Linked DNA regions of Homo sapiens: all the other regions are linked to region 3. The links come from fine-mapping of genetic effects on gene expression. A gene starts in region 3. Each other region holds a variant in brackets. All regions are shown on one strand. Distances are from middle to middle. Region 1 overlaps CEP55 (centrosomal protein 55). Region 2 overlaps FFAR4 (free fatty acid receptor 4). Region 3 holds the start of FFAR4 (free fatty acid receptor 4).

Evidence for each region. PIP is the estimated chance that this variant, and not a neighbour inherited with it, causes the effect. A credible set is the group of variants that fine-mapping cannot tell apart.
Region 1: its variant is the best candidate, but not a certain one, in a credible set for the expression of FFAR4 in blood mononuclear cells (TOPMed, PIP 0.54).
Region 2: its variant is the best candidate, but not a certain one, in a credible set for the expression of FFAR4 in whole blood (TOPMed, PIP 0.51).

What each region holds. Positions count from the first base shown.
Region 1 is chr10:93,516,132-93,520,131 of GRCh38, reverse strand. CEP55 (centrosomal protein 55) reads right to left here. Exons shown (of 9, transcript NM_018131.5): 6 at 2,884-3,197; 7 at 1,184-1,255; 8 at 325-450. Among named protein-coding and RNA genes, the nearest start is that of CEP55, 22 kb to the right of the region's middle. The variant C/T (reference allele first, on the strand shown) is at 1,943.
Region 2 is chr10:93,586,119-93,590,470 of GRCh38, reverse strand. It overlaps FFAR4 (free fatty acid receptor 4), which reads right to left. Exons shown (of 3, transcript NM_001195755.2): 3 at 399-3,251. The coding sequence ends at 2,862. Among named protein-coding and RNA genes, the nearest start is that of RBP4, 13 kb to the left of the region's middle. The variant A/G (reference allele first, on the strand shown) is at 2,046.
Region 3 is chr10:93,564,662-93,569,013 of GRCh38, reverse strand. FFAR4 (free fatty acid receptor 4) reads right to left here and starts at 2,349. Exons shown (of 3, transcript NM_001195755.2): 1 at 1,727-2,349. The coding sequence starts at 2,293. RefSeq lists an enhancer at 2,109-2,947.

The DNA.
Region 1 (4,000 bases), 49 kb after region 3:
AATAGATAAACACAATTTCAGTTCAGGATTCTGTGACTACCCTCTATTCTACCCTTTTGACCCCAGCTCAGGCACTATTTAGTGCCTCCAGCATCACAGCAGCTGGGGTAGTTGGGGGAATGTTTCCAGATGTGATCATGTCCCTCTTTCATGTCCTCTGAATTGATGCTCAAAGGGCAGTTGCTTCAAATGAGGCAGAGGCTCTACCTACTGATTTGAGATACAGCTAGCTGTGTGTTAAGCTGTATCCTCCTAAGTTCGGAACTGATTTGGTATATAAATGGAAGACGAAGACAAATTTTAGTTTAATCATTCCAGACTCACCAAGGATTCCAACTGTGTTATTTGATTTCTTGCTTTTCGGAGCTCCTTAAGAATTACATGCAATTGATGCTGCACATGTTGACGGTCGAGTTTTTCATTTTCAAAGTCTAAAGTACATGCCTGCATCTGGAAAAGGCCCAGAACAAGACCATTACAGCTGATACAGACTGTCTAGTTCTCTTGACTGGATGCTCACATTTTTTTATTAGCACATGAAGAAAATATTTATTGTACCATCGTAGCAAGAATTCACCTAAGCACCATGAAATGTTAATAAACGAGGCAGCTTATGGCTGAGGATTTGGTTTATCCAAGGAGCAAAGCCAACGCTGAGGTATAGGTGAATGAAGAGCAGCTTAAGAAGTTGTTGATTAGAATTACTCCTCCCTATCCACCTTTTTTAAGGGGGAAGAAGGAGAAGGGAAAGAGATAGCTATTCCCTGGTTTGGAATATACTAAAAATCTCTGCTTTACACCATTTATAATACATTCTGAGACTAAATGGTGTCTCTCCAAGTTCTGCTTGAAGTTATAAGGTAGCCCTACTTAGGAGACATTGTTAGGCTAGGAGCTACAGCCACTGGGGAAGAGCAAAATTTGCCAAGGCCAACATCTACCTGTCAAGAAAACTGCCATCACACCTCAAGAATCTGTTTAGCCTAAGGTCAGCAACAGGAATAAGTGGCTAGCAGAGTCTCTTGAAATATCTTTTTTATTGAAGAAGAAAGACTTTTATTGAAGTCTTTTAAAGACACTTTTCACAACTTTCAAACAGTTCTCCATAGAACAGCATAAACATGAGGAAAAACTGCATTTTCTAACAGGCAGAATTGAATTTAGAAGCAACCCGAATGAGTACCTGTTGTTCCAACAGAGCTACCCTTGTTTGTTCTTCTTGCTGCTTTAGCAGAGATGTGTAAAGAAACTGGACCTGTAGGACATAAAGAGAACCAATGCTGTCACATCCAACCTTTTCCGGCTTGACCTGGGATGCACGGAAAGCTCACATCACAAGTCTCACATCTCTAACCAGGACAACACCTGCTAGTCAGGGGTGAATCATTCCAGCTGGCCATCTGATGGCTATCTATGCCAGCAGCTAAGCAGTATACCACCGCCCTTGCCGAGAGTTCCCTGAGGCACACAGACTGAATGCTGATAAACAGCACTGAACTCTGCAGCAGCCATGCCCCCTTTCCTGGAGGTTCTGACACTTCTGAGTAGGATAACATGGGTGGCAGTGCTGGGCCCTTAGCCAGAGCTGAAGCAAAATTTAATCAGCAGACTTAATCTCTCCCTAGTATCACTGCTCATACCTGTAGACAGAAGAAGTGTGAGTGGTAAAGACTAAGATGGCAGGCTGGACACAGTGGCTTGCACCTGTAATCCCAGCACTTTGGGAGGCCAAGGCAGGTGGATCACATGAGGTCAGGAGTTTGAGACCAGCCTGGCCAACATGGTGAAACCCCATCTCTACTAAAAATATAAAAATTGGCCAGCCGTGGTGGTGGGCACCTGTAATCCCAGCTACTCAGGAGGCTGAGGCACAAGAATCACTTGAAGACAGGAGGTGGAGGTTACAGTGAGCTGAGATTACGCCATTGCATTCCAGCCTGGG[C/T]GACAGAGCAAGACCCTGTCTCAGAAAAAAAAAAAGAAAAAAAAGACTAAGATGGCAAATGTTATAGATGGACTTGTTACTGTCCCATCACCAGCACCCTCAACTTTTGTAGGACTGTTAAAAATTATTATTAAAATAGTAGCAATAACTAGCATTTACCTCGCTTAGTTTACAAAGCACTTTTACCTTCTCTCAACTGACGCTCACCAAAGCCCTATATGGCAAGCAGAGGTTATTATTAATTTGACAAGGGAATAACCAGTGAGTAGTCAGAGAAGTTAGGTGATTTGCCTAAGGCCATATATCCTGGACTAGAGACTAGGCATGGATTCCAAATAATGTTCCTTCCATGATGCCAGGCTGCAAAGCAAAATCTAAATTAAAGAGTTCCATCAAAGTACTGTTCAATTCCAATAATCCTAACGTAGTAACTCCAACATTATTATGATACCATAGCATAAGGCTATGAGCATAACAAGAACATGGAAGATGCCATGTGAATTCACTTGAGCACATATCATCACCATTAAGATGCCAGTCTAGGAATCAGCCTCGATTCCTCTCATTACTTCACTTCTTCTTTTGGCTTCTCACATATACTGACCTCCTCCTCACTCAGAGCCTTTGTGTGTACAATTTCCTCCATTGAGAGGAAAAGTCACCCACCTCACTGGGTCCTCCTCATCATCAGGTCTTTGTCCAAATGCCATCTCCTCAGAGAGGCCTCCACTGGTCCCCAATTTCCCTTTGTCATGTCACCCTGTTGCATTTTCTTTAGTTTCCTTATTTATTGTTTATGGTCTGTTTCTGTTCTGGAATATAACTCCCATGAGGGGCAGGAATTTGTTTTGTCCCTAGCCAGTTCTCTAGTGGTCAAATAGTCCCTGACACTTAGAAAGTGTTCGGTGAACACTCTGAATTATGGATCTGGTTAAGTTTACCTGAGATAAGAGCTCTTCGGATCTCTTCTTCTCTTCTTCAAGTTTTCCCCTAGCAATATCATTCTCTTCCCTGAGTTTTTGTATCTTCTCTGTTTTATGCCTATCATCTTCCAGATGTTGCACATCTGCCCTTCTTTGTGAATACAACAGCTGATTTAAATTGTGAACTTCTTTTTGGGTTTCTTCATATTTTCTTCGAAATTCACTCAGTTCAAAACTCAGCTGAGTTATGGTTTGTCGTTCAACCTCAAGATCTTTTTTTGCACTTGCCAAGAGATCGTTGTAACATTTCTGCTTCTCTTCTTGAAGATAACCTATGACAAACAACATTACGGCACAACTCACTTTATAAAATAAATAATATTCCTGAAAAGAGAAACATCAAACATCTAAATGAATCACACTATTTCCTTAGTTTACAACATGAAAAGTCAAGAGATAGGGACTATGGTTGATATTTGATGAAATAAAAAACAAGTTCAGGTATACTATTTGAAGTTATAAAACTCACAAATAGAAGAACTAAAAACAGTAACATCTATTCTGTTGGGAGGGAAAGTCTCAAGAAGTTCAATCAACAAATAGGAACACAAGCTCATTATTTATATGTGGAGATAACTATCAAAATTAAAAATAGAAATATTAAGAGCAGTTGCCTGATGGGAGGAAGAAACGGGGATTGGGATGGGAAAGACAGGGCAAGGTCCTTCTTAACTATTACATTATTCTAACAAGTGCTTATATTGCTTTGATAAAACAGACACACAGAGAAAGAGAGAGAGAGAGAGAGAGAACTGTATTACCAAAGAAAAGAAATTAGACTTAGCCCATAACTAAAATCCTGCTTTTACATAAGCACATATTTTATAGAAGCAACTTAGTGCCATTAGGGCTGACAGCTTTGAAGTGCCTCCAGAGACATTTATAGTTTCTTTTTAGCATTAGCTTTGTTTTAAGTATTCAAATATGATTCTCCAATCTTATGAGTCTTGTTCCCCTTTCTTTAGACTTCTCTATAAAATTCAAGGCTTTGGTCCCCTCCAAACTGTCAGTCTTTTAAGGAGAGCATTGCATGGAGTTTCTCATTTTTCTTTTCTTAGCTTGTCATCTAGAATTG
Region 2 (4,352 bases), 21 kb before region 3:
TTCTCTTTTTGCCAGCTATGAGTGCAGTAAGGAGAAGACAAGATGGCCAAGTGGAAAGTCCATTTGCATAATCAGATTTGGGTGGGGTGGCCAGCCTTTCTCGTGCACTACGTAAACGTCACACCTGGTCAAACCAATCTGTGAGCCCTATGTAAATCAGACACCACCTCCTCAAGCCTGCCTATAAAATACGCTGTGGTCCACCACTTTTCCCTTTTCAGATGCCTCTGTCTCACGAGAGAGAGAGCTGCTCTCCTCTCTCCTTTCTTCTGCCTATTAAACATTCTGTTCCTTAACCCACCCACATATGTCCGTGTCCTTAATCCTCTTGGCGCAAGATGACAAACCCCGGTTATTTACCCCAGACAGCAATGCCGCTTCAATAAGATAGCCACACATCACTTCCAAAAACAGGTTTAATTGATCAAATCTATTAACTAAAGTGAGCAAAACATCTCTGTTCGTTTGTCTTCGAGCTTGTGATATCCATGAATCTGACTTCAGAAGCAAGCTGCTCCAGAAACTGCATAAGCAGTCACTACTGCTGGTGCTGATTTCCTCAGCAACAAAGATTTGTTGAACACCTACTATACACCAGGCCCCGTGCTGCTGTGCATTCCAGCCACTGGCCCAGCCTCCAAGTGGTGGAGTGACCCTGGGTTCGGTCTTTGGCTCTGGTTTCTCTCTATCTCTCCAAGGGATGTATTATAAAACCATAGGTCTATAAACACCATTTATATCTCCAAACAATGTGCATCTCCAGGCCCAAGCTCCACATCTCTGCATCCAACTGCCTATTCAATTTGGAAGTCTCACTGAGATTTCAAACTGATGAGCTCCAAATGAAACTCTTGGCTCCCCCCCCCCTAATCTTTGCCCAGGCCCCCCCATTTTTGTTGCCTGCTTCACCATCCAACCAATGACAGGCTAAAAAATCAGAGTATTCCCCTTGAGTTCTCCCTTTCCCTCACATTCTATCAATTCCATCCTTCCCATCAATAAATCATCTTTGTTTTACCTTCCCAAGGTATATTTACAAGTCATTTCTCACAATCCCTCCCTAATGCCACTCACCTCCAAGGTCCCATCCCCATGTCACACTTCAGCAGCTGCCCAACTGGTCTCCATTTTCACTCATGCTCCTCAGAGTCTATTCCCTGCCCAGCAGCCAGGGTAATCTTTGCACACATTCATCAGGTCACGTCAGCCTCCAGTTGCCAACCTCCAGGGGCTTGGAGAACAGAATAAACTCCTAGGCCCTATGTGATCTAACCCTGCAATTTCTCTGGCCTCAACTGACAGGCCCCAGCCGGGTACCCCTCATCTCAGCATTAAAGGCAGTGCCTAGTGCAGAGGAGGCTCCATCAATAGTCGGCTTACGCCACTCTCCCTTCAAGCGTGTCAGCCTCCTTGCACTAACATCTCTTCTGTGTCCCTTCCCCCATTCACACAGGTGGCCCTTTCTTGTCGCTTACCTTTTGATCCAATTTGTCACTCCTCAGAAAGGTCTCCTTAGGCCCCTCCCCATCTGATCTAAATTCCCATCACTACCATAGCCCCCGTCCCATTTTCTTCACAGTGCTTATTCGCTCTGTGATGCTATACTATTTATTGACTTGTAGCCAGGCGTGGCGGCTCACGCCTGTAATCCCAGCTACTTGGGAGGCTGAGGCGGGAGGATTGCTTGAGCCAAGGCATTTGAGGCTTCAGGGAGCCGTGATTGTGCCGTTGCACTCCAGCCTGGGCATTGGAGCAAGACCCTCATCTCAAATATATAGGTATCTGTATATAGATATAGTTTATTGACTTTTATTTAGTTTTTCTGCCCCTGACTCGAAGGTAAGTTCCCTGAGAGAGGGCCATGGCTGTCTGGTTCACCACTGTATTCCTAGCACAAAGGACACTGTCTGCCATGGCTGGTGCTTAAGAGGCATCTCTGCTGGATGCGTCAGGAGTAAACCACTCCTGAACTCACTCTCAAACATTTCAGAGCCATCCTACTTTCTCTCTCATTTCATGATGCCGATTCTCTTAAAAGGGTCCAT[A/G]GCATTTTTATAAATGAAAAAAAAAAAAAAGTAAGTCATCTTTAACTGTTCCTTAGAAATTCTTCAATTGCTCTTGACATCAACGAATGATCCTAAACCCTTGCGAGTCCAAGGTAGGGCACAGGGTGGCTGTGACCCTTCAGAGGAGAAATCTGCGTCCTGAATCGGTTCTAAGACTCACTTCAGAAACCACTATGGTGTGGCTTTATATGTAGGAGATGTGATTGCTGAACAGTCATAAATAAATATTTATTAAATTTGATCATATTACAAACACACTAAAAAAGTTCACATTTAAAAGGAACCCATAACAAATCTTTTTTTTTTTTTTTTTAAGATGGAGTTTCACTCTTGTTGCCCTGGTTGGAGTGCAATGGCACGATCTCGGCTCACTGCAACCTCTGCCTCCCAGGTTCAAGAGATTCTCCTGGTTCAGCCTCCCAAGTAGCTAGGATTACAGGTGCCCACCACCACTCCCAGCTAATTTTTTTTTTTATTTTTAGTAGAGACGGGGGTCTCACCATGTTGGTCAGGTTGGTCTCGAACTCCTGACCTCAGGTGATCCACCCACCTCAGCCTCCCAAACTGCTGGGATTACAGGCATGAACCACTGCACCTGGCCAACAAATCCTTTTATAAAGGGAAAATATTATGAAACTTGGTGATCACCCCTTAATTTACCGACGCTGTGGATGTCTATTTGCATAGGTTCATTTTCTTAAAGCAGGGTGCACTGATGGAGGGTACTGGAAATGAACTCTGTTTAAAAGCATGCCACAGCTCGCCAGGTGTGAGAAACTCGGCTATAAAGAAAAATTAGCCAGAAATAATCGACAAGTCATTTCTTTTGACAGATGTGTCTGTTAAAATGGCTCCCTTTTCTGGGAACCAGAAGCAGCAAAAAATTTTCTTCCACTCATTCCTGCACAGTGTCATGTTGTAGAGGATGGGGTTTAGGGCTGAATTAGCAAATGTGAAGGCCACCACCCAGAAGAAGAGGGACGGCCAGATGACCAGGTCTTGCTTGAAGTTCTGGATCAGGATGAGGAGGATGGTGATGATGATGGGGCTCCACATGATGAAGAAGGAGACCATGAGGAGGAAGAGGGTGCGGAAGAGCCGGAAGTCCTGCTGGGACACGCGGATCTGGTGGCTCTCCGAGTAGGCCAGGCTTACCGTGAGCCTCTTCCTTGATGCCTTTGTGATCTGTGGAAAACCAAAACAGGACTGGAGCCACAGGTGACCGAGGGTTGTTGGGGATTTTGAGTTAGGGGCCCAAGAGTTGGAATCTGCTATCCCCAAGGCACTGAAGCTGTGTGCCTCTGGGACTTTGTGTGCCCGAGCTTAGGATGTGCTGGAGAAATGGGACCCCGGCTGCACTCCTGAGAAATAAAGCAGAAAATCACCTACCTTCTAAACAGCGTTATGAGGGGAAGTGAAAAGCCTGAATTGGGTGGTCTACAAGAGGGACATCTTCCCTGTTATTTTTTTAAAAGAGATGTCTCTTTAATTGTTTGCAAGCACAATGTGCTTAGGGTTCAAACTCAAACAATGCTATACTGATGGGGAACAAATGAAGAACATCTGGCCTTCTCTACCCTCTATTTCCACCCTGGGAGGTGACTAACGTGAGTATTTTCCCATATGGCTTTCTGGAAATGCACCACTGCCACACACAATATTCCTGGCGTGGGATTGCAGGCATCTGCTCTTTTACCTGGTACACAGATGGGCCCACACCACGCACCACACTCCGGGCCTTGCTCCTTTTTCACCTAGCAGTATATCATGGTGCTCGGGCCATATCTGCACAGAGAAGGCACTTCATTCTTGTTATCTTCTGTAAATGGTGGTTGCAATTTATCTAGCCCCTATTGAGGAGTATTTTATTTCTTTGGCCTTGTTTGGGGAGGTAGCAGCTGAAATAGCAGTGTGCATACTCTTCCCCTCTCTCCCTATATTATTCCGTTCTCATGCTGCTATAAGGACATACCCAAGACTGGATAATTTATAAAGAAAAGAGGTTTAATTGACTCATAGTTCTGCGGGGCTGGGGAGGCCTCAGGAAACTTACAATCATGGCAGAAGGGGAAGAAAATGTTTCCTTTCTCCACACGGTGGCAGGAAGGAGAAGAATGAGAACCAAGCGAAGGGGGAGACCCTTATAAAACCATCAGATTTCATGAGAACTTACTATTACGAGAGTAGCCTGTGGGAAACCATCCCCATGATTCAATTACCTCCCACCGGGTTCCTCCCGTGACATTATGGGAACTACAATTCAAGATTATGGGGATTATGGGAACT
Region 3 (4,352 bases):
TGTGGGCTAAGAACAAGCCTGTCCACTAAGCCAGAGCCCTTGGTCTGCCCATAAATGGCACCCACCAGCTCAGCTAATCCTGGCTTCTCTGGGCCCCACTTGAGTGGACATGGCCACAAGCTTGCATGTTATTTGATCAAGTGCCACAGGCTTGATGGGGCTCCTGCCTATTAGTCATTCAAGCTCATAAACAAACAAACACCCCACAATGTATTCCACACAAGCATTAGAAACAAGTGTTTAAGTTTGATTTATGTTTAAAAAAAAAAATCTCGCACAGGATACAGGAGGCAGACTCCATCCATCCTACCCCCAATAAAAGGGCTGTGTGAGAGACTGGTCTGGGAAAACCCCCAGAGAAGCTCCACCTCTCTGTCTCAGGCTCTGGAGGGTCACACAGTCAGGGGGTGTCCCTGGTGGGCTGTGTGCATCTCCATAACCAAGCCTTCCCCTGGTGACATGTCATTTCTCCCTCCCTACTCCCCTCTCTGACCACTTCGAAGGTCCCTCTTTGGGACCGTGATTCCTGTTTGTGCCACGATTACTCAGGGCGCCCCATATTCACTCCTAGGTGGAGAGGGAGCTTAAGGGTAGGGGGTTCCAGGCCGGAAAACCAGTGACCCCGGCAGGGAAGGGGAGGCCAAGAACCCAGCCACGGGCAGAAGCTCCTGGAGGCTGAGCCCCCAGCGCACAGACCTAAGTCCTTTCTCTATCTCTCTCCGCGAGGCATGGAGAACCAAACACACTGGGAAGACAGCCAGACGGCGGCCACTGTCCTCCACCGTGACTCCGCGTCTAGATTCCCTCTTCCGTGTGGATCCCGGCGCACGAACCCTGCAACCACCGGGCAAAGCGGCAAGAGAAAAAGACCCGAGCTCGGGATTCCGGACCGCGGGACTTGAGGGGAACAGAGCCAATGTCCTGCACTATCCGCAGAACCTTATTCCGATCATGGTCACTCCCACCCCTATGAGCTAATAATGACAACTATTGACCCGCTATGTAAAACAGAGCTCGTCGGTCCAGCCTCTGTAATCTGCACATTTCAGGCGCCCAGGACACCTCGAAGGTCTAGTGTAATCCTTCCGTTTTGCAGCTGAAAAAACTGAAGACCCCGGAAGGGAATTCTGTCACAAGTCCCCTAAAGACAGCATTGCATCTGGGGTCCCCGGGTCTCACATGCCTGTCCGCGCGCTTTCAAAGCAGGACCATAACCCAACCCTGGACAGGAGCCCAACTCCTCCTTGAATTACGGGTAAACTTCTGGAAGGAGCCCATCTCCTCCTCGAATTACGGATAAAATACTCTGGGCAAGTTATTATACACTTCGGTGTGCCTCTGGTTCTCATCTGTGAAATGGGTGTGATAATAACAGTATTGTAGCACCTGGCGAGGAATCATGATTCAATACAAAGTGTTTGGCCACCCTGCACCCCCAAAGTTCCGTCTCGCTCCTAAACTACTCGTTAATTAACCTCGCAACAGTCATTGCATTTTGCAAGAATTTGGGGGACTCCACTTACATCATTTAGGAGGGCGTGTGCACAGCGTTGTAGTGAGATTTAAGAGATTAAACTTCACAGCCATGGGCACAAGATTTGGCACAACGATTAAGTGCAATAAATGGCTATTGTTGTTCTTGATCATCCTCATCCCAGCTTCCGTCGGGGCCCCGCTTCCCAGCCTGCGCAGGACACCTGCCCGGCACACACAGAGGGGCGCTCACCTGGTCGGCGCCGGGGAGCCGTTGCGGGACGACTCGGAAGAAGACGCAGAGAGGCAGAGCGGCGACCGCCGAATAGCCCCAGATGAGCGCCAGCAGCACTGCCCGCGCCCGCCGCCCAGGACCCCGCACGCCGCGCTGCAGGTGCACGATGCACACCATGCGCTCCAGGCTGACCGCGGCCAGCGTGAGGATGGTGACGCTGCCGCTCAGGGTCATCACGTAGAAGAGCAGGTGGCAGGCAACGGGGCCCAGCAGCCAGGCCTCAGTCCAGCGCACGGCCAGCACCAGAGGGATAGCGCTGATGAAGAGCAGGTCCGCGCAGAAGAGGTTGAGTACCAGGCAGGCAGTCGCGCCGCGGCGTCGTCGGCGCGCCACCAGCACCAGGGCGCACACGTTGCCCAGCAGCGACACTGCAAAGATGAGCACCAGCACGGTTGTCTCCACCGCGGCCAGCACCAGCCGGTGGTCGCCCTTGACGTCGGAGAAGAAGGGAAAGCGGGTGCGGTTGGCTTGCTCCAGGCTGCGCAAGGGCGCGTCGCCCGCTGCCCGCGCGCATTCAGGGGACATTCCCGGCGCCTGGCGGCCCGCAGCGGTCTGAGAGAGTGCTCATCTGGGAGGCGACTGAGTGCCAAGGCGGGGAAAGAGGGAGGGAGGCGGTTGCGACATCTCGCCTCTGGCCCCCTCCCTTCTGAGGAGCGCCAGCACTGGGTGCAGGGAGCTGCACCCGGGGCGCGCGGGAACCAGGAAGTGCCCGGCAACACTGGCCGCGAACACCGCAGCTGGCCGGGGAGGTGGCGGCCAAGGCGGAAGCCTCGTGCCCTCTGGCCCTTTGAAAGTGTATCCAGAAGCCAGAAAACTCACTTAGCGAATTCCTCGAGCCCCCGCAGGGCCTGCCCAACCTCCTTTATTTTTCAGGGACACTGGATGTGCGAAGCCTTTTGTGAACGGATTTAGCTAAAATTGATTTAAAAGGGTCAGAGCTGGCCTTTGGAGATTATTTTGGCCTGTGTCGTTCAGGCTTTACTAAAGAAACTCCATGGGTCTGGAGGTAGATCCTAAAACAACTTGTAATGAGTCCATATTTTTTGTGGGGGAGAGAGGGAGTGGAGATCTTTTATCACTACTTAATAACAGGTCTTTAGGTGGATTATCTACTCCCTCTACCCCAGATTTTTAATCTATAAAATGGGAATAATAATACCCCATTAGGTTATTGTGAGGCTCACCTAGAGTTTTGCACACTTGGCACACAGTAATTACTCGTTAAATGTTATCAAATATTAGTTATTGTAACTAAAATGCATATACATTTTGCATTCTGAACAATGACATAAATGCTTTCTTATAAAAAGAGTGAGTCCTTCCAAAATTTTTAATAAACTTGCCATCCAAGGAAGACAGATATTTCAAGGCTGGCAGATTCACACACAAGCTATGAATGTGCCCCAGGTGCCACAGTTTGAGGAGCACTGGGCAATCCAGTCCCGTTAGAGATAAGGAAACTGAGGCCCAGCCAGAGTGACTTGTCTAAGCTGTCCTCTGGTTAGTAATGAAAGCCAGTCACCTGTCCCCGTCCCACACATTTCCATCACACCACTGCAGTCTCGTTTTCTGTAAATGAGGAAGCTGGAGATGGAAAAGTATGCCTGTGGCCTAAGATCCAGTGGCCACTTCCCCAACCAGCCACCCTCCTGCCACCCACACCTTCACCCCCTCTTCCCTCTGCCATATTACCAGGCCTCTCCCAGTTGCCCACTCTGTCTTCTAATTGTCTTTCTTAAGGTTGGGTCTTAAGAAATCTAAGCACTGACTGGGCACAGTGGCTCATGCTTGTAATCTCAGCACTTTGGGAGGCCAAGGCGGGTGGATCACTTGAGGTCGGGAGCTCCAGACCAGCCATGGCCAACGTGGTGAAACCCCGTCTCTACTAAAAATACAAAAATTAGCTGGGCATGGTGGCAGGTACCTGTAATCCCAGCTACTTGGAAGGCTGAGGCAGGAGAATTGCTTGAAACCGGGAGGTGGAGGTTGCGGTGAGCCGAGATCAGGCCACTGCGCTCCATCCTGGGCCACACAGCGAGACACCATCTTAAAAAGAAAGAAAGAAAGAAAGAAACCTGAGTACTTCAGGCTGGTTGCGCCAGAGTCTGAAGTACTGTCTGGGGAGGGGGTCCATTTGTGTGTCTGCTTTTCACGGTATCAAACAGGTCTGAGCTGATGATGTGACTTCTAACCTGAGAAGTAGATGCTCAGCTTGAACATTGACTAGGTTCAAGTTGAAAAACAGAACTGGTTTGCTTCCTGAAACAGTTGAAAAAGGGCAAAAAATTGAAATAAAGGGAACTCAGACAAATGGGGTTTTGGCAACTGTCTGATTAGGGTCAGGGGATATTAGTGTTTGTGTGAGGGAAAGGAAACTATAGGTATATGTATGTGTGTGTGTGTGTGAGAGAGAGAGAGAGAGAGAGAGAGAGAAAGTAAGAGGGAAAAGCACAGACAGAGACGGAGAGAGATTGATTACATCACAGGCTGATGTGATGAGATAGACACAGAGAGGTTTCCCTAGAATGTACAACCAGGGTGGGCTCTTTGCACTAAAAGGCCTTCTCCAACATTAACCTCCTGG